Linked DNA regions of Homo sapiens: regions 1, 3, 4, 5 and 6 are each reported to be linked to region 2. Evidence: microRNA targets listed by miRTarBase, many of them from high-throughput screens and not tested one by one. Region 2 holds a microRNA gene; each other region holds the end of a gene's coding sequence.
Evidence for each region. Region 2 holds the annotated microRNA hsa-miR-2116-3p (CCUCCCAUGCCAAGAACUCCC, at 2,648-2,668, opposite strand). A microRNA usually pairs through its seed, bases 2 to 8, with sites in the 3' UTR of a target mRNA and lowers its output. Matches are read on the target gene's strand: a 7mer-m8 pairs with bases 2 to 8, a 7mer-A1 pairs with bases 2 to 7 and ends in A, and an 8mer does both.

Region 1 (4,104 bases), not on the chromosome of region 2:
CATACTTCTTCTGAAGTCACAGGGGAATTCACATCACTCTGTGTGACCTCTGTCCTACCCCTTTTATGTGAGGGTGGTGAAAAGCAAGTTGAAATGCAAAGGGTAGGTAGTCTGGGAGACTGACAGAAAATGCTGTGCACATGTGGTTTTTATAATGAGATATACAGCTTGTACCCGAAGCCAAGAACATTTCACATGCTAAACCTTTCCAAAAGCAAAACAGCACAACTCCCAGGATAGTTTGGTAGGAAACGCCCATGTAGGGAAAGCCAGAAATGTTTGGGAACTGAGCCTGGGATCTGGCATCCAGGTTTTTCTCTAATGACCTTTGCTCCTGTCATTCTGCCTCCCATAGGAGCATGTGCCCACCTGGCTTCAGAACACTCATGTCTACAGCTGGCCCAAGAATAAAAAAAACATCCTGCTGCGGCTGCTGAGAGAGGAAGAGTATGTGGCTCCTCCACGGGGGCCTCTGCCCACCCTTCAGGTGGTTCCCTTGTGACACCGTTCATCCCCAGATCACTGAGGCCAGGCCATGTTTGGGGCCTTGTTCTGACAGCATTCTGGCTGAGGCTGGTCGGTAGCACTCCTGGCTGGTTTTTTTCTGTTCCTCCCCGAGAGGCCCTCTGGCCCCCAGGAAACCTGTTGTGCAGAGCTCTTCCCCGGAGACCTCCACACACCCTGGCTTTGAAGTGGAGTCTGTGACTGCTCTGCATTCTCTGCTTTTAAAAAAACCATTGCAGGTGCCAGTGTCCCATATGTTCCTCCTGACAGTTTGATGTGTCCATTCTGGGCCTCTCAGTGCTTAGCAAGTAGATAATGTAAGGGATGTGGCAGCAAATGGAAATGACTACAAACACTCTCCTATCAATCACTTCAGGCTACTTTTATGAGTTAGCCAGATGCTTGTGTATCCTCAGACCAAACTGATTCATGTACAAATAATAAAATGTTTACTCTTTTGTAAGATTATGTTTTACTTATCTCAAAGGAGATACATATAATTTATAATGATATGGGCAGTTGCTTCCAGGGACATCAACAAAGCTGCTTAGATATAATATTAGATAAATATAACAGACCACTCTGTATTAATGGATTAAAGCCAGCTAGTTAAACAACCCTTTTTAACCATAATCATGGAAGCTTTATTCTTGCAATAAAGATTTTTAGGCTGGGCGCAGTGACTCACACCTGTAATCCCAGCACTTTGGGAAGCTAAGGCAGGCAGATCATTTGAGGTCAGGAGTTTGAGACCAGCCTGGCCAACATGGTGAAACCCCATCTCTGCTAAAATTACAAAAAAGTTAGCCGGGCATGGTGGTGTGCACCTGTAATCCCAGCTACTCGGGAGGCTGAGGCAGGAGAATCACTTGAACCCGGGAGGCAGAGGTTGCAGTGAGCCGAGATCATGTCACTGCACTCTAGCTTGGGAGACAGAGCGAGACTCCGTCTCAAAAAACAAACAAACAAATAAAAACACCCATTTTTAACAAAACAACTTTATATAGCATACAGCCATGATTCTAAATAGTATGATTATGGTTCTCAGGATCTGACTACATAGGTAAAAATATTTGCATATGTGTATGAAGTGTTGGGGGATGTAGGCTAGAATTGTAGTCTGTGTTCTAATTTTGGTTCTACCACCAATTAGCTGTATGACCTTTAGCAAGTCCTTTAACTTTTCTTAGATTCCAGGGACTCATTTATAAAATGACATGGACAAAAGCATCTCTAATCACTCTAAAAGATTTGAAGTCTAGGACCTAAATTCTAAATACTCTTTTGAGGAGTGACTGAGTTTTCATTTTCATAATTATGTCTCTCAGAGGACAAATTTACATTTTCTTAACAGAGACATTTTCTTCTTCTTTTTTTTTGTTTGAGACAGAGTCTCGCTCTGTCGTCCAGGCTGGAGTGCAGTGCTGCAATCTTGGCTCACTGCAACCTGCGCCTCCTGGGTTCAAGTGATTCTTCTGCCTCAACCTCCCAAGTAGCTAGACCTATAGGCGCCTGCCACCATGCCCAGCTAATTTTTGTATTTTTAGTAGAGACAGGGTTTCATATTGGCCAGACTGGTCTCGAACTCCTGACCTTGTGATCCGCCCACCTCGGCCTCCCAAAGTGCTGGGATTACAGGTGTGAGCCACCACACCCAGCCAACATTTTCCTCTTTTAAAAAATATCTTCTCACGCCTGTAATCCCAGCACTTTGGGAGGCTGAGGCAGGCGGATCATGAGGTCAGGAGATCAAGACCATCCTGGCTAACACGGTGAAACTCCATCTCTACTAAAAATACAAAAAAAATAGCCGGGCGTGGTGGCAGGCGCCTGTAGTCCCAGCTACTGGGGAGGCTGAGGCAGGAAAATGGTGTCAACCCGGGAGGCGGAGCTTGCAGTGAGCCGAGATTGCGCCACTGCACTCCAGCCTGGGCAATAGAGTGAGACTCCGTCTCAAAAAAAAAAAAAAAAAAAAAAACTTCAACAATACCCTCAGGTTGATAATTTTGGATATCTATCTGTATCTATATATCTTGTTTACCTGGTCTCCAGAAAAAGAACACATACACATATCCATATATAAAATATGTATACATGTATCAAATCTACGTAAACTATAAAGGTGGGATGGCTTTAATTATGGCCCAAGCTACTAAGACAATGAAGACTTTTTGGGGCTGCAAGCTACTGCTTCCCTTCTTTATCTACTAGCCTCTTAAACAAGGCTCACTTGTGCTACAAGACAGTCCACCGTTTTGTTTTTTTTTTCTTTTTTTTGAGACAGGGTCTCACTCTTTCCCAGGCTGCAGTACAGTGACACAGTCTCAGCTCACTGCAGCTTTGACCTTGCCGGGCTCAGGTGACCCTTACACTTCAGCCTCCCAAGTAGCAGGGACTATAGGTGTGCACCAACATGCTTGGTTAATTTTTGTATTTTTTGTAGAGACAGGGTTTTGCCATGTTGTCCAGGCTAGTCTCGAATTCCTGGGCTCAAGTGATTCACCTGCCTTGGCCTCCCAAAGTGCTAGGATTACAGATGGGAGCCACCACGCCCAGCCCAGTCCAGCTCTTATATGTAGCACAGGGAAAGGACAAATACTTGTCAACTATAAATAAGAAACATTGCTAATGCATTGCAAAGAACACTAGTTTCATTTACTTTATAACTTAGATGTCTACTGGGTGAGACGAATGTCTTTGTTCTTTAAAAAATAGGAAAAGAGAAGAAAAACTAGCATAACATAAGTACTCATTTGTAAGACTTTCTGACATGTAACATTAGTTCCGTAGTTTTGAGACCTGGTAGAACTGACTTTCATATTTGGATAACCTGGAAAACACCCAAACACAAACTTCAAGTCTTCTTTCTCTTTTTTCATTATCTTTTTTAGTCTGAGGTGACACCATCATTAAGGATTCGACACCCGTTTGTAAATAAAATGACATCAGCAATTACTCTGAAATGTTTCTAGTTTGCAAAGACTTAGCAATGTGATGTTATTAACCCTTCCTCCCTTCAGAGACCTGTCCTAAGCTCTGAACCACTCATTCCTTCCACTCTTCTTACCCCAGGTGGTTGATGAGCAGTGGTCCCTGGTGTTCCACAAAGAGTCATTAAAGTGTTACAGCTGGTAGCACTGGTAGCAAAAAAACAAACCAAAAAGTACACACAGACACACACACACACACGCACACATACACACACACACGCACTTGGCCAAGTGACAAAAGCTTGGCCCCTGAAATTTCTATGAGATCCGATGACCACCAACATCAAAGCATTTTTTTTTTTTTTTTTTTGAGACGTAGTCTCGCTCTGTCACCCAGGCTAGAGTGCAGTGGTGCAATCACAGCTCACTGCAACCTCCACCTCCCGGGTTCAAGCGATTCTCCTGCCTCAGCCTCTCGAGTAGCTGTGACTACAGGCACCTGCCACCATGCCCGGCTAATTTTTTGTATTTTTAGTAGAGACGGGGTTTCACCGTGTTAGCCAGGATGGTCTTGATCTCCTGACCTCGTGATCCATCCGCCTCGGCCTCCCAAATTGCTGGGATTACAGGCATGAGCCACCACGCCCGGCCCATCAAAGGAATTGTAACA
Region 2 (4,104 bases):
AAAAAAATAAAAAGTAGTATAGAATGAACCACCACATGTCAGATTTCAAGCACCAATTCACGGATAATCACAATTATCTACAACCTCACTCTCCCTGCTTCCACTTTAAAATAACTACCAGGCTGGAGTGCAGTGGTATGATCATGACTCATTGCAGCCTTGACCTATTGGGCTCAAGCAATCCTCCCACCTCAGCTTCCTGAGTAGCTGGGACCACGGGCACGTACCACCACTCCTGGCTAATTTTCACATTTTTTGTAGAGATGGGTTCTTACTATGTTGCCCAGGTGGGTCCCAAACCTCCTGGGGTCAAGCGAGCCTCCTGCCTTGGTCTCCCAAAGTGCTGGGATTACAGGCGTGGGTCACTGCGCTCAGCCTTTATTTCATGCTCAAATGTTTCAGTACATATTATTAAAAGATAAAGTCTCTTTATATTAAAATTAACCACAAAACATTATCATACCTACAGAAATAAACAATAAATTCTTCATACCAAATATTTAGTCATGCTCACATGTTGTCTTGTAACTGTTACTGAATGGTTGGTTGGTTTGAATAGGGAGCTGTAGGCCCACTGTGCACTGACATTAATTGTAAGAGCTAGAGATGGGCTAAGATCAAGCTTATGGGATACTTTGATAAATCGTAACTAGGAGGCCATATGTTGATATCATTCCAGCCAATAGTCAACTGGTCAATCTCAGAAATTCTTAAAAACACATACAGATGTTGCAGCTTTTTTCCTGAAGTACAAGCCAACTGTTAAAATCTTTCTCTATGCCAGTACTGAAGTATTTTGAGAACACACACGCATGTTCAGTAGTCTGGTACCAGAATTAATTTCCACTCTGGGTTCGATTCTGCACACACATCACCCTCTGGTTGCTTTCCTAACTTGGTTCTGATTACTGGCCTAACTCAAGTATAAAGAAATGAGGGGACACTATTATTCATCTTGGCAAGTGTGAGGTTCAGTGACTGCAATACACAGACATCACAAGTTCAAATGACTCACACTTTCTTTTTTTTTCCTTAGAGTCAGAAAAACTTTTAGGCTAAGTACCTCATTTTACTACAGCCTTTAAAAAGGAAAGACCGCAAGAAAGGAACCTTCCAGATAATGAATACTGAACAGGAAGAAGAAAAAGAAGCTGGTGCTCCCATGACAGATTATATCCCCAGAGGCTGTAAAAGAAGACAATAAACAAACAAAAAACAATAAAAGGAAGAAATTTGAGTGTGAACAGTCCCTACAGTCCCTGCTTGACAACCCCCTCAAGGACTTATCAATAAGATAGTAAGTGTCAAAGTGCTTGATACAAGTGTAGCTCAAGGCCAGGCACGGTGGCTCACGCCTCTAATCCCAGCACTTTGGGAGGCTGAGATGAGTGGATCACTTGAAGTCGGGAGTTCAAGACGAGCCTGGCCAACGTGGTGAAACCTTGTCTCTCACTAAAAATACAAACATTAGCCAGGGGTGGTGGCTCAGGCCTGTAATCCCAGCTACTCGGGAGCCTGAGGCAGGAGAACCACTTGGACCAGGGAGGCAGAAGTTGCAGTGAGCTGAGATCACGCCACTGCACTCCAGCCTGGGTGACAGAGCGAGACTCTGTCTAAAACAAAACAAAACAAAACAAAACAAAACAACCACACAAATGTAGCTCAATTAGGATAATTTATGGTCCCAGTCATGAGCACTCCACCAGGGGTCTGAGGGACTGAAGACATACCTGGGCAATAACAGAAAGAACAAGTCACTCTCGGCACAGCGACTACACACACCCTAGAGCTGTGGTTCCCTGACTTTCACCTGCTGTGCCTGCCAAGCACGCTGTGGCCAACCTGGCTTAGTCCAGGCATGGCAGGGCCCCATGCAATGACAAACAAAGCAGGAGCTTCCTGTTGGGTTTCCACGGCAGCCTCAGGGCCCAGCTAGCCAGGAAGAGTGTGGCCAGCAGGCACTGCCCCGCTCAGGTTGGGACCCAGCCAGTGAGCTGAATGTTTAGGAAGGCCTTCAGAAAATCAGTCAGCGCCTAGAGCTTTAAAAAAAAAACAAAAAAAACAATAGCCTTGAAACCTACCTGAGGTGGGGCTGCAAAATGGACACTGCGGACTCATCTGCTTAGCAACTTTACCACATCCTGAGTTGGCACGTTTTAAATACTTCACTGCACTGCACTGCCTGGTCCTTTATCCAGGGAAATTAGGAACAGATAGAATCAGAAACCACAGAGACACAGGCAAGAATGGATGCAACTAGAAATCTGTTTTGGATTATCAGACTGGAACTAGGATTTCCAGCTTGGTACATCAGACGCCTGAGCACATAAAACCCCTGCTTTTTCCTGAGCGCACCAGTTTTGCCTTCTGTGTGGAGTAAGAGTTTGACAGGCGTCCCAATTCCATGTTCATGTGAGAGCAGAACATCTTTAATGCAAAGGCCCAAAGCTTTTCCTGATTAAAGTAGTGTTAGCCTCAGAGGCCCAGGGACACGATTCTTGGAGGAAGCTATGGGGCTCAAGGAGGCCTTTCTTCCATTCTTAGTCTTCATGGATTGCGAGGATTTCCTGTGTCAGCGGAACTTAGTCTAGGAGTTCTTACCATGGGAGGACTTCGGGAGGACTTAGCATGGGAGGACTCCTAGTCTGGGAGTTCTTGGCATGGGAGGACTTCTTAGCATGGGAAGACCTCCTATGCTAAGAACCCCTAGCCTAGGTCCCACTGACGGAGGAGATGCTGACGGCCGGCAGAGGAGCCCTTCTGCCGAGAGGAAGCCAAGGTGCTGCCGGGAGGAGCAAGGGCCCTTCCTGAGGCCTTGTGGAAGCAAACACCACTCCCCACTGCCTGAGAATTGGAGCGAAGAGAGCATCTCACGATGACTCCAGGGCTACAGAGAATGGAGACCAACTTGCACTCCCTAAGGAAGTCCCAAAGAAACTTCCCTTTCAGGACCCTCTGCTCAGGGAAATGGGTGAGGCCTCCAACCTGGGTGAGGTGGACTGGGGGACAGGGCTCTGAATCCTTGGCTCTACTGCAACAAGAGAAATTATTCTCTGAGGTGTTCCATATACCGGGTTCATTTCTAACACGTTTCGGTTACAAGAGATCTGGGTCCCCCTTGATTAGAGGAGCTGTCCGGAGGCAACCTTTTCTTGGTACCTTCTTCCTGACATATCAAGACTTGCTGAGACTAGGGAGTCTTCCCTTTGGGACAAAGGGAAATTCCATTCTCTTGATCATGATTTTGACAGCTGGGAAGCCCAGCCCGGCCTTCCTCCTGGCTGTTTGGAACAGCGGACCGTGATGCTGAGGCGAGAAGGGGCAGTCCTGCCTCTGCACCTCCACTACTCACCTGAGGGACACAGACAAGATCCGTTCTATCTCGATTTTCCGCTTCAGGACTTCTTTCACCAGGCCCTTGTCTGGGCCCTGTTTGACTTTTTCTCGTCCGATTAAGTACAAGCACTTTGGGGTAAGGAGCAGGTCTCGCTTTACACCCTGTAAGGAGAGGAGCTTTAAGAAGCTGGACAGGCCAGGCATGGTGGCTCACACCTGTAATCCCAGTACTTTCGGAGGCCGAGGCGGGTGAATCACCTGAGGTCAGGAGTTCGAGACCAGCCTGACCAACATGGTGAAACCCCGTCTCTACTGAAAATACAAAAATTAGCTGGGTGTGGTGGTGGGCGCCTGCAATCCCAGCTACTTGGGAGGCTGAGGCAGGAGAATCGCTTTAACCTGGGAGGTGGAGGTTGCAGTGAGCCGAGATTGCGCCATTGCACTCCAGCCTGGGTGACAGAGCAAGACTCCGTCTCAAAAAAAGGTGGACAGACATGGTCAATGTGATGACAACAATTCACACAGTGGACTGCTGTTACCAGGACAGGGGGAAGCTGCCTTGGACAGTCAATCTTCACTACTGTTGAGAGGCCATTCCATTCATCACATGACCGGGCCCCATGACAGTGAAAGAGGGCATTGTTCATGATTATTAGGATGACATGTAAAAAATGATGACATTTGACTCTTTTTGACTTAAAAACTGGCAAACTCATATGGAGTCACTTCACATATCAGGACAGCAGGTGTAAAGGGAAAGTCACCAAC
Region 3 (4,104 bases), not on the chromosome of region 2:
TATTCTCTTTAACAAAAGTGGTGTTGTACAAGCCACATAGCTTGTTAGAACCTGAGCCAAAACTAGAACCCACAGCCCTGACCCTTGGGTCAGTCTTAGTTACAGTAACTCCCAGTTTAAGCCACTTCACATCCTTTCAGAAAATAGGATGCTTAAAACATTTTTTTTAAAAATCAAATCTTTCCCAAATAAGCAATTTGTGTTTAGTCTAGGTGTCTCATGCTTTATTTCAGAACAGATTTTTTTTTTTTTTTTTTTGAGGTAGAGTTTCGCTCGTTGCTCAGGCTAGAGTGCAGTGGCGCGATCTCGGCTCACTGTAACCTCTGCCTCCCGGGTTCAAGCAATTCTCCTGCCTCAGCCTCCCGAGTAGCTAGGATTACAGGTGCCTGCCACCGTCCCTGGCTAACTTTTTGTATTTTTAGTAGAGATGGGGTTTCACCGTGTTGGCCAGGCTGGTCTTGAACTCCTGACCTTAGGCGATCCACCTGCCTCGGCCTCCCAGAGTGCTGGGATTACAGGTGTGAGCCACCGCGCCTGGCCTCAGAATAGGTTTTTTGGAATTCCTTGTTAGAATAAAAATGAGTATGTCACTTTCTGAACACACTCTTCTTTCTTACAGGCAATCTGTACAGAAGCTGGTCTGATGGCCTTAAGAGAACGTAGAATGAAAGTAACAAATGAAGACTTCAAAAAATCTAAAGAAAATGTTCTTTATAAGAAACAGGAAGGCACCCCTGAGGGGCTGTATCTCTAATGAACCATGGCTGTCATCAGGAAAATGGTTGGGAGATTTCTCAATCCCTGAAAGGGATGAGGTTGGGGGAGTTGCCCAGAGGAATCCCTGTTCCCACTGATTTTTATTAGCAAAACATCCTGTGTCTTTTGGAGTACGATGTGTAAGTGCCCATTGGGTGGCCTGTTGGTCACTGTGCAGCAGTCTGCTTCCCAATAAAGCGTGCTCTTTCACAAACACTTCCTGTTTCTGCAGTCTCCACACACACCTACCGCTCAACAGCAGCCTGTGGGTGGACCCAGCTACAGGGAAGCCTTTGGACAGGAACTCAGGCTGCGGTCCCAAGGAGTGTGGACCTCACTATGCGTTCGCCACATCACACCCCCAGAGCTGGCGTTCAACGGTAATTACAGTGGGAAATGGTCACTACCACAGAGCCAGGGATATTCGTTGTTTAAATAATAAAGGCTGCGTTAATGTGGCTATTGCTTCCAAAGGAAGTACAGCTTTCCTTTTTGGAAGTTTTGTGGACCATGCATGTTCTTAGCACTCTGAGGGCAGAAAATAACTACTGGTGTTCCCAAGAGACTGAGGATTCCTAGAGATATCTTGAAAGCCCTTCTGAGCCCTTGGGCTCAGAAATCTCATCCCTTTCAAGGTGTTCAGAAACATGTCAGAACTTCCCCTTCCCTTTCTCCGTCTATTTCCGTCATTTCTCTTTCTGAACAAATCAGGCCTAAAGCTATTAAGTGGGACAGATCAAGGTAAGCGTTCCCTTGACAGGTGGCCTGGTGTGGGTTGTAGGGCCCACACTGAATGAGGAGTGTGTATTAGTTTTCTGTTAATACTATAACAAGTTACCACAGGCTTTGTTTAAAAACAGCACAATTTGGCCAGGCACGGTGGCTCACGCCTGTAATCCCAGCACTTTGGGAAGCTGAGGCAGGCGGATCACAAGGTCAGAAGTTTGAGGCCAGCCTGGCCAACATGGTGAAACCCCATCTTTACTAAAAATACAAAAATTAGCTGTGCGTGGTGGCAGGTGCCTGTAGTCCCAGCTACTCAGGAGGCTGAGGCAGGACAATCGCTTGAACCCAGGAGGCGGAGGTTGCAGTGAGCCAAGATCCCGTCACTGCACTCCAGCCTGGGCGACAGAGCAAGACTCCGTCTCAAAAATAAATAAATAAATAAATAAAAACCACAATTTTATCTCAGTTCTGTAGGTCAGAAGTCCAACACGAGTGTCTCCAGGCTAAAGTCTTGCTGTTGGCAGGACCGTTCCCTCTGGCGTCTCTAAGGGAGAATCCGTTTCCTTGCTGAGGATTATTGTTGGCAGAATTTAATTTCTTGGAGTTGTGGGCCAGCTGAGGTCAGCATTTCCTTGCTGGCTGCCAGCTGAGGCCTTTGCCAGTCTGTGAAGGCCACCCTCCCTCCTGACTCGTGGCACTTCATTTTCCACCAGCAGCAGCAGGCCCAGTCCCTCTCTCCCACCGACCCTTCTTTCTGCCTGCCTTTTCTATTCTTATGGATCCTTGTGATTGCATTGGACCCATGCAGATGATCCAGGATAATTTCCCTGTTTTAAAGTTTACAATCTTCTTAATTTTTATCTGCAAAGTTCCTTTTGCCATGTAACATTCACACGTTCCAGGGCTTAGGGTGTGGCCATCTTTAGGGGCGCCACTCTGCCTACCACAGAGGACATCCACACGTGGGGGTGGCCCAGTGCAGGGTAAGGACGGGGTGCTTGTGGGGAGGGCGGGTGTCAGCCCAAGTAGGGTGTGGAGCTGTCCATGTGGAGGAACACCACAGCACGGGGACTCAGCATGGGCAGGGTGAGGCTGGCATCCGTGTGGGGTGTATGTGCAGGGCTGGGGTGGTCCGATAGGGGGAGTCAGTGTGGGCAGCCTGATGTGCAGTATGAGAGCCCAAGTGGGTGAGGAAGGCATCTGCAGGGACGGGGTGGTGGCAGGGGAGGGAGGCTGCTTATGTATGGAGGCAGTCAGGCAGGTAAACAGGACAGTGGGAGCCAGGTTTCTCTGAGGAGTTAGACACAGAAAGAAGAAAACAAGAACGACCTCTGTCCACTGGGAGCACCTGGGAACAGTGACACCCCAACTGCAGTGAGCACCCCTAGACCCAGACCTTTGCTGCTAAAAGTATTATTCTCCACTAAAAGGAGTGAGGGCTGATTCCGGGGCTAGGCAGGGAAAGGACAGGATGAACCCAAAGTCTGTTTTGCCAGAAAGCAAGGGAGTGCTCAAGGAATGATAAGGACATGTCCTAAGGACACCGAAGCCTATGTGAAGGGGCTTCCACTGGCCAAACTCGGGACAATCTGAGCATCCTAACAAACAGTTACTATTAATGGAATACAGTATAGCCCTTTAAATAGGGAACTACACACACACACACACACACACACACACACACACACACACACACACACACACCCCAATACATATGAATTGATCTGAAAGTTTGCTGAGGAAGGGGTATTTACAGATTTTGAGAGTCTGCCACAAAACACTGTTCAGTTAGAAAGGGAAAGTCACACTGGAGATGCCCAGCAGACACCGTCTTCACCAAGTGGTCAAATGCACATCATCAGTAATGGGCACTTTGAAAGTACGTGCCACCCAAGAGTGTCAGTGCTGTCACACTCCTGCCAAAGATGCTTAGCCTGAATCCAGTGCTGAGGAAACACCAGGCAAACACAAACTGAGGAACATTCTACAAATTCAGAACACTTCAAAAGTATCCACGTCTTGGAAGTCAAAAAGCTTCCAATCAGAAGGAGACCAAAGAGATGACAACCAAGTGCAGCTCCTGCTCCTGAACTGGATCCTTTTCCTAGAGGACATGACTGGGCCTGAGGACCTGCTAGGAGTACTGCGTCCATGCTGACTTCCTGTTCAGTGTCTGTATCGTGGGCGGGTAGCAGACTCTCAGCAACTGACTCACACGGTTCAGGAAACAAAATTCTTTGTAACGCACTTGCATCTTTTCCTAAGTTTGAGATTAAAAAAAACAAAAAACCCCAGCACATCAGTATTGCCTTTTCCTCATTGGTAATAGCTGAGCGTTTTCCTCTAGAGGGACAGTCTCCCTCATGTCAATTCTACAAAAGCAGCTAAAGCAAATGCCAGGGCCTAGAGTGTCAGGGTAGCGGGCTGAACTGCGCCCCACCCCAGCTGCTTCTCCAGTTTGCTTACTGACCAAAATGCTGAAATTACCGTTTCGGCAGCTGGTCACTGAGGCCTGCGGTGCCAAGTGCAGGGATGCAGGTATGAAGTGCTTGTGAAATAACAGAATTCCCACAGTAATTTCTTCCCTGGCTTCCTGCACTGGTGAGCCGGACAGGGAGAACC
Region 4 (4,104 bases), not on the chromosome of region 2:
ACCTGAAGTCAGGAGTTCGAGAGCAGCATGGCCAACATGGCATAACCCCGTCTCTACTAAAAATACAAAAATTAGCTGGGCGTAGTGTCGCGCGCCTGTAATCCCAGCTACTCGGGTGGCTGGTGCAGAAGAATCGCTTGAACCCAGGAGGCAGAGGTTGCAGTGAGCCAAGATGGCGCCACTGCACTCCAGCCTGGGCGACAGAGCGAAGCTCCGTCTCAAAATATAATAAATAAATAAACAAACAAACTAAATAGGGCCTATATGCAAATCCAATTTAATTTCAAACTCTGTGTTCTTTCCACTATATCCCACCTCTTCCCCTATACCCTGATGGGCATCAACTGCTTCCGATTAGGTAGCCTGTCTTACGAGTAAAATTGCTATTTAGTGACTGTGAATTTGAAAGTAGTTTTTTTCTGACCAAACACACTGTTCATTCAGAGGTCTTTCAACAGTAAGTTTTTAACTGCGTTTATGGTACACCCCCGCTCCTCCCACCCAACTCAGCTCTGAACTGAGCTCAGAGGCGAAAAGCAGCCCTGATCCCCAGTAACTCACATTTCAGAGGAATCTCTCTTTCATGCACAACGGTGAAGGGCAGCTTCTCCTGGTCGTCCAGGGGCACTGACTCCCGCGTAAACACGACAGTGACAGGCACCATGAGGCGGAGCTACAGGAAGGAGCATCAGGGCCGTCACTGAGTCTCCACCTTGCCGGGGGGGCTGTCCCCCGACCCTCCCGCACAGCAGTCTCACCTGAAGGGCATTCAGGCCACTGATCTGGGAGTAAGGCAACGAGGCCCGGTAGGTCTCCGTGGTCTTCCACCAGAGCGGTAGCCCCAGCACGATGGCCACCGCAGCGAAGAAGAGGGCGGCGCGCTTGCCCCGGGCCACCTCTGAGGGCATGGGGAACCGACTGAGGCGCTGGAAACGGGCTAGGGTACCGGCCCCATCCCCGACGCGGAGAAGCCCCAACCACCGGCCTCCAGGGGCCCGCGTTCATTGGGATCTCCGTGCGAAGGGACCCGGCCCAAGCCTGAAGGGAATCTCGTCTGAAGAGACCCCCGAGCCCCCCGTCCGCGGGACCTCTCGCACACCACAATCCCCACCCCTGCTATTCCTCCCTTGCCATCAGCTAGCTGCAGGCCCCCCACCCGAAGCCCACCGCACCTAGGTGTGTAGCCGCAGCCCCGGCGGCCGCCATGCTAGCTTCCGGCTGCTCCGGCCACCGTGGGGGCAGAGCTTCGTGAGCCTCACCCAATCGGAATCTCTGCAACGAGGGGGCAGGACCGCGGCGGTGATCGGGGCCAATCGCGAGCGCTACTCCAGACCCGCAGACGGGAGCAAGCGGGCGAGGGGTGGGAGGGCTCCGCTGGGAGCTTCGCTGGGGATCTGAAAGGAAGTCACCCGGGCGCGGAGGGACAGCCTAGGGGCCGTGCGGGTTTCGGCGCTGCTGGAACGAAGTTCCCCGCTTCCCTGTAGAACACACTTCTAGCCCCGCAATCAAGAGCGCAACCTCTGCAGTCCTTAAATACTAGCTGGGCAACTACAGGCAGCTCCGAGGCTCATCTGAAAATGGAGATATTTACATAAATGAGGCCGTTCTTGTAAGGAGCCTGGCACACGGAAAGCCCTCAACGTCAACTGTCACGGTCTTATTATCCTTATCGTAGAACTCCTCTTAGGGTGCCCTCTCCTCAAAGCCTCAAACACGGAGGTAGCAAGCTAGTATGTTTTAGCACAATTGGCTCTCTCGCTATTTTAAAATACGTTTTAATTCATTTCCAACTTGGAAAACTCAGAATACTTCACTTAAAAATCTTGAAAAGTCATGAGCCCAGACTCTAGATGCTGATCACTGCGGTTCAAATCCTGGCTTCATCACTTATTAGGTGAGTGATCGTGAGAAGATCGTTCTGTGCCTATCTGTGCCTGTTTTCTCTATTAAAATAGGGATGATAGTAATAGTACCTACTTTATAGAGTTGTATGAAATGTGTCAGTACATATAAAGTGATTAGAACAGGGTTGGTGCTATGTGCAAGCTATTTTTGTTATTATAAAGTCAGGCCACACAGGGTGGAGCATTTGTAGCCTCCCCAGTTGACACAGAACACACGCAGCTTGTTATCTCTTCTTTTTATCTGCTTAGACCCAGGTTCTCAGCCTACCTCACAACCCAGCCCAGTGGTTAAAGTTCAGCATCAGGCCTCACCAGAGCTGTCCTTACCCAGACCCTCCAATTGGCTCCCTTTGTGCCCACTTCTACCCCAAATGAAAATGGGCCATAGCCCTTGGCAACCTCCTAGATGCCCTGCTCAGCCCTGGCAGCCCGCAGAGCCTTGGTTTTCCTCTTTGGGCGGGAGTCCAGGTGCTCGCTTGCCCTTACTGGTGTGGCTCACCCTAGTGGAAGGTACCAGGTCCCAGCTGGGCTTAACACTGCGAGATGGGAGAGACTCCCACCCACTCTTATCCCAGCCTGTCTTGCTGCCTCCCTGCTTTGAGCCTTGCACAAATCTGCCTTCAGGAGTTGCCAGTTTGGCCTCACTCCATACTTCTGTAGCTGCAGCCCAGTGCCACTGATGTGGCAGTCCCTAGAAGACTTGCAGTCTTCCTCATTGCCCCACTCCAGACTTGGACATCAAGAGAGCAAGAGCCTGAGCTGGGGATGGTGACTGCATGTGCCCTTCCTCCATAACTTGAAGCCCAGTAAGACTCAAATCCCACCCTCTCCACCTCCAGAGTCAGAGGGCCCAGAGATAGAATTAGCAGAGATCAGAAACTGGGAGGTGGGAATTTGATGTGTAAAACAGACAGGCAAAGTAGAATGTTTTGCTACCATTTATTTGCTGTATGGTATGTACTCAAGGCATGAGTCAGGGCTTCTGTACTACCCTCTGATCCCAGGAGACAGGGCAGGCAAGAAGGAGAGCCCAGGGAGAAGCTACCTCATCATGGGAAAATTGTGGGAGCTGGAAGAGGTAGGGGGAGACCCAGCCATCCTGTTCTGACTTCTAGCAATTTCTTCTGCCCTCAGTCATGAGGGGCTCCCTATCCTCCCATCCTATGGTCCCAGGTGCAGCAATGAGAGAGGGGAAGGGAAGAGAGAAAGGAAGACAAGTTGGTGCCAGGTGAAGGCATCTCTGCTCTGCATAGCTATTTGGCCCTGGCCATGACTACAAGCAAAAGTGGGTGCAGATGGCTGGGCCAAGGGCTGTGGTATGGAGTGGATACTCAGTAGGCATGGTTGGCAATGTAGAGTGACTGTGCTGCTGCTCCACCATCTTCTCCACTGCCTTCATACTTGCCCTGGGCTGCAAGCCCATTCACCTGCAAAAGGGAGCGTGGAGTAAGCAGGCTGAGCCAGCCCACAGGTGCCAAGCCCTGCCCAGGCTATAGCCTCTGGGTGCTGCCCCCACCCACCACCACCTGTAGCTCCCAACCTCAGCCCGCTTGATGAACTCCTCAGTGGCAGCCCCAGCATTGTCCCGTTGCCCTCGCCAGGCATTGAGTGCAGAGGCTTGCAGGGCACGCCCATAGGAGAAGGTAAGCGCCCAGGGTCGGGGAAGGGGGCAGCGGTTGATGGCATTGAGGTTGAATGATGCCTCTTCTTCGCTCTGACCCCCAGACAGGAAGGTCACTCCTAGTGTGGAGGAGAGAAGACAAACTGACTGGTCACTCCCAATTTTTCCAGGATAGGGAACCCCTGAAGGCCACAAGAAGGACCTGAAGATGGGCCTTAGGGATAGGAGCAGGTTAGGGAGCTGGGTAGTACCTGGGACAGCTGGGGGCACAGTGCGACGCAGGGCAGTGACAGTTGCCATGGCAATCTCCTCTGGGGTATACTTGATGGGACAGGCATGGCCCGGGGTCACCATGTTGGGCTTGAGCAGGGTCCCCTCCAGGTATACATGATGGTCACTCAGGGCCTTGTACACAGCAGCCAAGACCTGGGTGGGGATTAGAGGAGGTTTACTAAGGGTCTGGGCCCCCACTGGTTACTGCTCGATGCTCCCTATGTAGGGGTAGATGGGCACAGACTGTGAGGGCTCAGTACAGGCTCAGATCACAGGCCTGTGCCGGGATGAAGTGAAAAAGTGCTA
Region 5 (4,104 bases), not on the chromosome of region 2:
ATAGGAACCTTCAGCTTGAATTTTCCTTCTGAATTTCATAGGTCTGGCTTTATCTAAATTGCAAAGAAATGGTTTTACTGAGCCCCAAAATGTGATCCAAGGAGTAACTTACAAATAGCTCAAGAATATTTGAACTCACATTTTCTATTATTCTTTAAACTGGACTAGTCAGTGATGGAACATATGTTATAATTATCTGTGTCAACTCAAGAGATTAGTGAGAAAAAAATCTAATTCTAAAGGAAAGGGAATAAACCAACAGTTGAATATAAATTATATTTAGGAAGGAGCTACTATAAAGGATTTCCTACTTATTTATGCCCATAATTAAAGAACAACAATGGCGTCAACATCAGTTACCTGTTTAAGTGAATGTGAGTCTGGATTTTTGAAATAAAGTTGATAACAAAAACAACATAACTATTCCATAGTGATTAAGAGAAAGAAAATTTGAAATAATAAATAATACAAGAGAATTCCATGTGCTTAAAAGAGTTTGTTAAAAACAAATTTATTTGTATTATTGTCCACATTATTTTACATAGGAAGGAAGCTCCTAGTGGGCAGGAAAGATCTATCTATAAATTTACTTCACAGTAACTTGAATCTAGTATATATGTAATATTATTTAAATTAAAATTTGCAATATAATATAAATACAATTTATGAGATCTTGAAAACATAACTCTTGAAATGTCAAAAATATTTACATGTACAAAATCTGCACAAAGATGCCAGCATAAAATTCTTTATGGAAGTTGCTTAAAACTGTAATTAAGTGTTAACCATTCATAGAAAATATGCCTTATTAATTTTGTGACACTGACTCTTGTAAACTCCACTTAGTATTGGTGCTTGATGTGAAGTGTTGGGAGTGGGCTCTTATTTAAATATTTAGAATAACTAAATCACACAGAGGCTCTGGGGAGACTGTGACTTTAGGGAGTAATAAATAAGAAAAAGTATTGTCAAATAGCTCATTTTTTTATTTAAATGCTATTGGCTTCATGCCAATAACACTAAGATGGTATACAGGACATTTTCAGGTCAGTTATAAATGTTATACATTGGTTTATTTTCAGATTATATTAAGAGCAATGATAAACCATCTCTTTTCAGTCTAACATATACAGACGATAACAAGATAAAGATGACATTAGGAAACTTCATAAACTATTATATTTGCATTTTAAGGTAGATATACAAGTTCTAGTAATAGTAAAATGGAAGGTAGTATGCCCTCTTTCTGGAGAAAGCTGATATCAGAATTACTCTGATATCCTCTGATATTAGAATTCCCTTTGGGTAGGTAATAAAGCCGATGATTTCTTATAAAATATGTCAAAAATAATAAGTCATGACAGAACAAGAAAATGCAAACCTATAATTCTACTTGAGAATCTGGAAGCTCCCTTTGACAAAGCATTTTTTTCTCTCAAATTACTACAGAGATAACAAACATAACAGAAGCTTCTGAAAAAGCATAAATATAATTTACTAATTAAAGCAAGCATTTATACATCACATATTTAGAAAGTTTATCTTGGAGGAAAAGAAAGCTACTGTGCTTCCTTATAATATTCCAGCAATATCTGTCAATGCATGCAAGATAAGCCATATAAAATACACATATGATTCTGCTTCAAAGGGACATAGGCAGAAAATGATCTCTTTGTAAGCCACAGGTAGGCATTAATGTGTTAGGTTATGGTAAATGTAAACTTAGAGGTAAAAATAGGAATGTAATATCTACTTTATATAAACATTAAATATGTTTTTATTATATGAAATATATCTTAAAATCTGCATGGTAAAAAACAAGATTTTATTTTCAATATAACAAAGTTCTTAGGCTATTTTTTTTTTAAAAAAAAGCCTTCATAATTGAGCTGCCCTAGTACAATTTAAGATACTATTTAAGAGAAGAAACATGGGATAAATCAAATGTAATGTTTATCTGAAGATTTTTAAAAAGAAAGCAAACACTGCTAAACTGAGGATCACTTCCCAGCTTAATTTTCCCCCCCTCCCCATATTGCTACAGATGATTTAAAATGACTGCATCTATTTCTTTGAGAAAACAAACATAATTCATGTCATAAGATACACTTACCTAATCACTCTGGAGGTTAATGGTGGTGGTAGGGGTCACAGCCCAAAATGAACTAAAAGGTCAGGTATGTTTTAAGAAAGCAGTTCCTCTTTAATTACCCAAAGAATACATTTTTTAGGCATGAATTAAAGGCAATCCATTCTCTCTACCTCCCATTTCAAAACACAGTAAAGAAGCAGTCTCCCGCCCTTCCAGAAAGAAACACAGCAGACACATATAAGAAATTTGCTTTGGACCTGTCTTCAGAATTCAAAGCAAGAAGCAAAGCTGGTCCTGTAGAAATCCAGACCCCAGTAGCAGAATCATGTTGAACTTATTTTTAGCATTTTCTTAGATCCTTCTATGAAATTTCCCGGCTGATTACGCCTCCTCCACACATGAGTTCACTTACACAGTGTTTGCTACGGCAGTAGAGGTGATTTGGCTAGGCTCTGAGGATCACAAACAGCAACAGCATGCTGTAGCTTAAAGCCCACTCCGCTGGCAATACCATCACCATCGTCCACAGTGTGTTGCTTGAATCCCCTCTTACACACCGGAAAATACTAACTGTGGATGTGAAGGAAAGGAGCAACTTTAGCTGGGTTTCTGCATCAGTAAGAGCAGTTTGCAGATTGCTGATTTGGAGCTCATTCTGCCGGCAGCCGGGAATTCCTCAGCACCACGGACAGCGCCAACAACTGGCTTCTGAGCCCAGCTCTGTCGAAATCCCAGAGCTGCTTTAGACGAGGCTAGAGTGCTCTCCAAGCAGTCGCACTTTATACAGCGGATGCGCGCATTAGGAGGGGTAAAGACATTCTACGTGCGAGATATTTATTTGCATTGAAATTGCAATTAATTTTTTTTGTATAAAATTGTATACCTAACGCGTTCTTGGATGGGCTGCAGAGATGAAAGTTCCAGAAGAGGCTTGCATTTAGATTTAAGCCATCTGCAGTCCCCAATTATTATTAATAGATAAAGCATAATCATTGTCAAACAATCTGTGAAAACGTATGCTTGTCGATTCTATTTGACCCTTTGGTGGCAGAAAGACTTCCCTGGTGCTGCATGATTAAACTTCAGGTCTTCCTGCAGCTTGGATCTGATTTTTTTTTTTTTTTTTTAAAGTAGCCAGGTTTTCCTGCAGTTTGTTCTCTAACATTAAAAATCAATCTCCTGTAATTCATCTAGTCTGTCATTAGGCGTCATTGTAAAGCTGTTTCTTTCAAAACCCCTAGCAAAGATGCCGTGTCTCTAAATTCTTATCAAAATGAGAGAGAAAAAAGACCCTGACACAAATGGGTGAGCATAAAGTTATTTTTTTATTAGTAACAGTATGAGCACTAAAATATATGTCCAAAGCATGTTTTAAAGCAGACTGTAAATGTTACCTGCTGGCACATTTAACCAGTTCTTTGCTGGTTTGGGACTACAGGAGGCATTTTCAAGCCTTAAAGGGAATGCCCTCTGCAGCGGGATGTGCTGACGGTCAAGACCACGTTCGAACTGTGCCGTCAGAGCCTCCAGAAAAGAGAATCTCCCCGTCGTGAGAAAACACAACCGTGTGTGCCTCGTTTTCGTGGCCCATCAATTTGTGAATCTCCCCAGATTTAAGATCTAGCAAATGGATAACACCATTGCCACTTGCCTGAGCTAAAACTCGACCTGAGGGAGACAGAGAGGAGAGAGAGAGAGAATGAATCAAAGTTTTATTTCAAGTGTTCACAGTTTATAAGCAATGAAGCATTCTATTTTTTTCAATTATCATTCTGTGTTAGGGGTCAGTTATTAAATATGCAGTAGCTCCTGTAGGTATAAGAAATAAGTTGAGTCAAAATTAAGACACATCAATAATTAGGTTATAAAATTTTCTAATTGGGACATAGAGCCTAATGGTCTACCTCCTTTATATGCAGATTTCATCAAACATCCTACTATTCTTTTATATTTGTGATTAATAAAGCATTTCGAGGAGATGAGATTGAAAGCAACTATGCAAGGCAACTTTC
Region 6 (4,000 bases), not on the chromosome of region 2:
GTAAACAGCCATAGCCCTGAGTCCCTTAAGTGTCTCCTACTGCCCCGCCACCCGGGTCCCTGCTCTGAGGCCTCTGGTCCAGCACTCAGGCCATCATCTATTCTGATTGGTCTGCCCGAGTCTTCGCAGTTGATATTTTGGATATCATCCCCGAGGGAGAGGACTGCTGAGCACCAACAATGACCCATTCTGGGGGCTTCGTAGCAGTAGGGGTGCGGGTGGGTAGCATGGCTCTCTCCTACCCAGCCTGGCGCTGCACAGCTCTGCTAGCTGCACCCTCCCAGAGCAGCTGGTCCCCATTTCCACGGTGCCCTGGCCTGTGTTTACAAGGCAGCTTTCTTTCCTGCAGTACCAACTGTGTGCAGAGCAGCCGGAAACTCCCCTAACACTGCTGGGCAGGCGGGGGCTGGCACTTGGGGAGGTTGAGCCAGGAAAGGATTAGTAACCAGGCAGCGGGTGGCTCAGAGCTGTGTGCCTGGGTGAGCGGGTGGTGTAAGTGGAAGGCGCTTGGCAACATGGCCTGCCACTCCCCGCTGAGCAGCAAGCAAGAGGTTGGGGCGGGGCGACTGCCCCGGTAGCGGGTGGGGTGGGTGGGTGGGGGTGGAAGAGATGTGAGCAGCGCCTGTACCCCTGGGACAGTCACAGTGACATCTGTTTGTTACCCTGAAGTGGAGACACAGAGGTCTGGTAGCACCTGTGCTCTGGGAAGCAGGTTTGCAGGGGGCCATGGCCACTGAGGACCTCGGCCCTGGAGGGTGGAGGGGCAGACATGCTGGCTAGTGGTCACCAGCTCAGCGGCTTAGGACAGGAAGCCATCTGACGGGAAGCACCGACTGCCAGCCCCATGTGGGGCCCCAGAACAGTTGGGGGGTGGGCTGGGGAGACAGAACTAATCTAAAGAGCATCAGGGCAGCTCCCACCAGAAGGTGACCTTGTGTGCCGAGACAGCTGCCACCCGCGCAGGGCACCTTTGGGGCACAAAGTGAAGGCCAGTGGGCCACTGCCGGCCAGTTTGTGGGAAACCTGCCAATGCTTTCCCTGTGGCTTGCCCTGCTGTCCCCATGGGGGGCCCACACTTCTCTCTAATCCCTTCCTTCCCTTTGCAGCTCAGGCTCCCGGAACAGGTGAGTGACAGACGATGGGCTGTGCTGTGCTGGATGTTCACTCTGACCGTGGCGCTTCTAGCTGGCTGCCTGTGGCCCGAATCTTTCTCACTGGCCATCTCCTCGGATCTGGGAAAGGTCCCGAGAGGTAGTCTCCTTGGCTCCCCTTCCTCAGCCAGACCCGATATCCATGGCACATCCATCTCCCTGCCTCCTCCTGCCACGTGGACAATTCTGATTTTAATGTGAGCAAGAGCTCATTTGCACAGAGAAAACCAGAGTTGGCTGTGCCTGGGGGTACATGAGCACTCTAAGACCCTCACGTTCCCACTATGACAGCTCACCTGACACTCAGACCCTCTTCCGAGTGCACTCTCGTCAATTCTCTGCTACTTATGTACCTGCAGGGGCTCACCCTGATTCCCAGGGCATCGAAGGCTGAGTTCTGAGCCACTTCCAACTCACTTCCTTTGTTGCCTGTGCTTTTGACAAGCCAGGGCCAGAAAGGCCACGTGGAGCTGTCGTTCTCCATGTGTTTTCTCTGCCCTGGGCTTTCTGGAAGCCTGAGGGAGGAAGGGCTGCTTAGAAGAGCAACCCTTAGCACCTGGGTCACGTGCATCCCAAGGGTACCAAGGTCTCCCTTGGAACTTACAGAGAACAGGGGTCATATTATAACTAAAGCGTTTATTTCCATTCAATTCACTAACTGATTGCTCTGCTTGGGTGTCTGTGTTGGTTCACAGGAGGGAGTCTGTGGCCAGATCCCTAGACTGAGGGCGTCCCCATGGCCAAGACCTTTAGGCCCAGCAAAGGTCTGGTGGGGGGAAGGAGGTGGGAGAGAAATCACACACTTTCTCTCCAGGGAAGGGAAGAGGCATGCTTGCCCGTGTCTCTGAGCGCACCCTCTGGAGGGCAGGGTATCACAGTGAATGATCCGGGTCCTGGCCTCCGATGCAGCCTGGTTTAGGCTCCCAGAGGGAAAACTGGGTTTTGACCATCTGAGGGCACTCAGGAGCCTCAAAGGGGCCTATTTGCCTGGGAAGTACTAGATAGATTGGGGCAGGAGAGTGGGAAGTGGGCAAGGACTTCCAGCCCTGCAGCCTCAGAGCCCACTTCCTCCTCAATCTGTCCCTTTCATCAACAGTCCTGGAGTGGGAAGCTCCTCCACCTTGGCGCCTCCCCCTCCACACCCAAATCTCACTCCAGTCTCTGAATGGCCCAGATGGCCCCATGGCAGTGGGCTTTGGTGAGGCCTGGTGGCAGGTGGGAGGAGGGAAGAGTGTCAATGAAAACCGTATAAAAAAATCCAGAAATGTGCATATAAAATCTCGCCCTTGGTGTATTGCCTAAGTCAGTAAGCAGAAAGCACCTTCTTCCTGGAGAAGGATCAAGTCCTCAAAAGGTAGGAAATGTCAAAGTGTCACTTCATTGTCATTAAAAAAAACCAAAAAACAAAAAACAACCCAACAAACAAACCCCCTAAACCAAAACCACCCTGTGACCAAAATACCCCCGAGTCCAGGAATTGCTGTAAACAAACCCAGATGCAGGATCAACCCTTCTCAGCGGCAGTCGGAGCTGACGGCAGTCACTGCAGTATCAGTCCTCGAGGCAGGGGCTGGCGGGAGTGGGCACCAGGAGGGCCAGGCTGCCAGGCTGTGCGCGTGATATGTACCTGGAGCTGCAGACCTGGGGGTTGCCCATCCTCAGGAAGGCTGACCTTTCTGGGGTCCCCGCGTTCTCCCTGACCCAGGAGGACAAAAGCCCCTTTCAGCCCTGTGAGCCAACAGGAGAAACAGTGTCTTTCATTGGAGTTTCTAAAATACTCTCCAAAGACAGAAAAATTCTTCTGTTTGCCCAGTGGTGGCAGGAATAGATTTTCCCAGAGGGGTTCTCAGGGTGGCTGTCTGTCCATCTGTCCCGTCCTCCAGGCGCTTGGTTGTTGAGTGAGGCCTAGAGGAGCAGCAGGGACAGGAGCCAAGGGCGGCCCCTGTCTCTCCCCTTCACATTTGTTTTTCTGAAAGTGTTTCTTGGCTCTGGCCAGGTCACCTTCCCAGAGGGAGTTGGAGAGAAACTGCTTTTGTCTCCGATTGGACACATCGCATGAATCTCCCAAGCCCTTTTTTATCCCCCGCAAGAACAGTCATTGCTTTCCTTATGAGAATCCTCTTTAAAAAATATTCCTTGTATTTCCCGCCCCCTCCCAGGATCTGTTTTCTTTTTTCCCATTCCCTTTTTTTTTCCGTCGTTTGAGTTGCATGTTTTCTTGGTGACGTCTCGTGGCTGGCACCGCTTGGTTCTTCCCGTGGCCCGTGGCCTCCTGGCGAGTGGCTGGCCCTGCAGTGGATAGAGCACCAGGAGGGCCGGCACGTGGGGCAGAGGGGGCGGGGCTTGGAGGAAGAGGTGAGCCGAGGCAGGTGAATGTCAAACCTCCACAGACTGAATCTGGTTCATCTGCGCCCGCATCACCTGGATACTGTTCAGGATTTTTTTCTGGTGGCCAGCCAAAGTGACCCCAACCCGGAGAATGTCCCTTTGGGAGAGAAGCACGTGTGTTAGGGAAATATGCGGGTGAAGGGGTCCTGTGCCTGGTAGAGAGCTGCCTGGGCTTCCCCGGGAGGAAGATGGCAAAGCAAGGAGTACTGGGGAGTGGGGAGTGGGGAGTGGGCAGGCAGCCACAGCTGGAGGGAGCGACTATGGTGTGAGGTGGAAGAGCACTTGAGTCGGAATCAGGGTCCCTAGGGGGCCTTCTCTCCCCTGCTATTGGGAGGGGGAAGCCAGCTTACATTTTCTTTCTTTTTCGAGACAGAGTCTCGCTCTGTCACCCAGGCTGGTGTGCAGTGGCGTGATCTCAGCTCACTGCAACCTCTACCTCCTTGGTTCAAGCAATTCCCCTG

Region 1: miRTarBase lists TRAF3IP2 as a target of hsa-miR-2116-3p. Seed matches in the 3' UTR shown: 7mer-A1 at 1,431-1,437 and 7mer-m8 at 3,041-3,047.
Region 3: miRTarBase lists PSMC1 as a target of hsa-miR-2116-3p. Seed matches in the 3' UTR shown: 7mer-A1 at 784-790.
Region 4: miRTarBase lists ALDOC as a target of hsa-miR-2116-3p. Seed matches in the 3' UTR shown: 7mer-m8 at 3,058-3,064.
Region 5: the mRNA of SPAG16 is a reported target of hsa-miR-2116-3p. The part of its 3' UTR that is shown has no 7-base or 8-base seed match.
Region 6: the mRNA of EPHB2 is a reported target of hsa-miR-2116-3p. Seed matches in the 3' UTR shown: 7mer-A1 at 3,212-3,218.

Annotation. Positions count from the first base shown.
Region 1 is chr6:111,555,803-111,559,906 of GRCh38, reverse strand. It overlaps TRAF3IP2 (TRAF3 interacting protein 2), which reads left to right. Exons shown (of 9, transcript NM_147686.4): 9 at 356-4,104. The coding sequence ends at 502. It also overlaps TRAF3IP2-AS1. Among named protein-coding and RNA genes, the nearest start is that of TRAF3IP2, 48 kb to the left of the region's middle. RefSeq lists an enhancer at 44-543.
Region 2 is chr15:59,168,545-59,172,648 of GRCh38, forward strand. MIR2116 (microRNA 2116) reads right to left here and starts at 2,718; the gene lies at 2,639-2,718. It overlaps MYO1E (myosin IE), which reads right to left. Exons shown (of 28, transcript NM_004998.4): 22 at 3,353-3,498.
Region 3 is chr14:90,271,654-90,275,757 of GRCh38, forward strand. PSMC1 (proteasome 26S subunit, ATPase 1) reads left to right here. Exons shown (of 11, transcript NM_002802.3): 11 at 620-3,776. The coding sequence ends at 754. It overlaps NRDE2 (NRDE-2, necessary for RNA interference, domain containing), which reads right to left. Exons shown (of 14, transcript NM_017970.4): 14 at 1-4,104. Among named protein-coding and RNA genes, the nearest start is that of PSMC1, 17 kb to the left of the region's middle.
Region 4 is chr17:28,570,291-28,574,394 of GRCh38, forward strand. ALDOC (aldolase, fructose-bisphosphate C) reads right to left here. Exons shown (of 9, transcript NM_005165.3): 7 at 3,777-3,951; 8 at 3,445-3,644; 9 at 2,830-3,331. The coding sequence ends at 3,236. PIGS (phosphatidylinositol glycan anchor biosynthesis class S) reads right to left here and starts at 1,234. Exons shown (of 12, transcript NM_033198.4): 1 at 1,173-1,234; 2 at 759-898; 3 at 562-673. The coding sequence starts at 1,206. RefSeq lists a silencer at 578-774 and enhancers at 755-874, 1,565-1,614.
Region 5 is chr2:214,409,796-214,413,899 of GRCh38, reverse strand. SPAG16 (sperm associated antigen 16) reads right to left here. Exons shown (of 16, transcript NM_024532.5): 16 at 3,399-3,760. The coding sequence ends at 3,585. It overlaps VWC2L (von Willebrand factor C domain containing 2 like), which reads right to left and starts at 2,846. Exons shown (of 4, transcript NM_001080500.4): 1 at 2,114-2,846.
Region 6 is chr1:22,913,098-22,917,097 of GRCh38, reverse strand. It overlaps EPHB2 (EPH receptor B2), which reads right to left. Exons shown (of 16, transcript NM_017449.5): 16 at 1-3,636. The coding sequence ends at 3,528. Among named protein-coding and RNA genes, the nearest start is that of MIR4253, 52 kb to the right of the region's middle.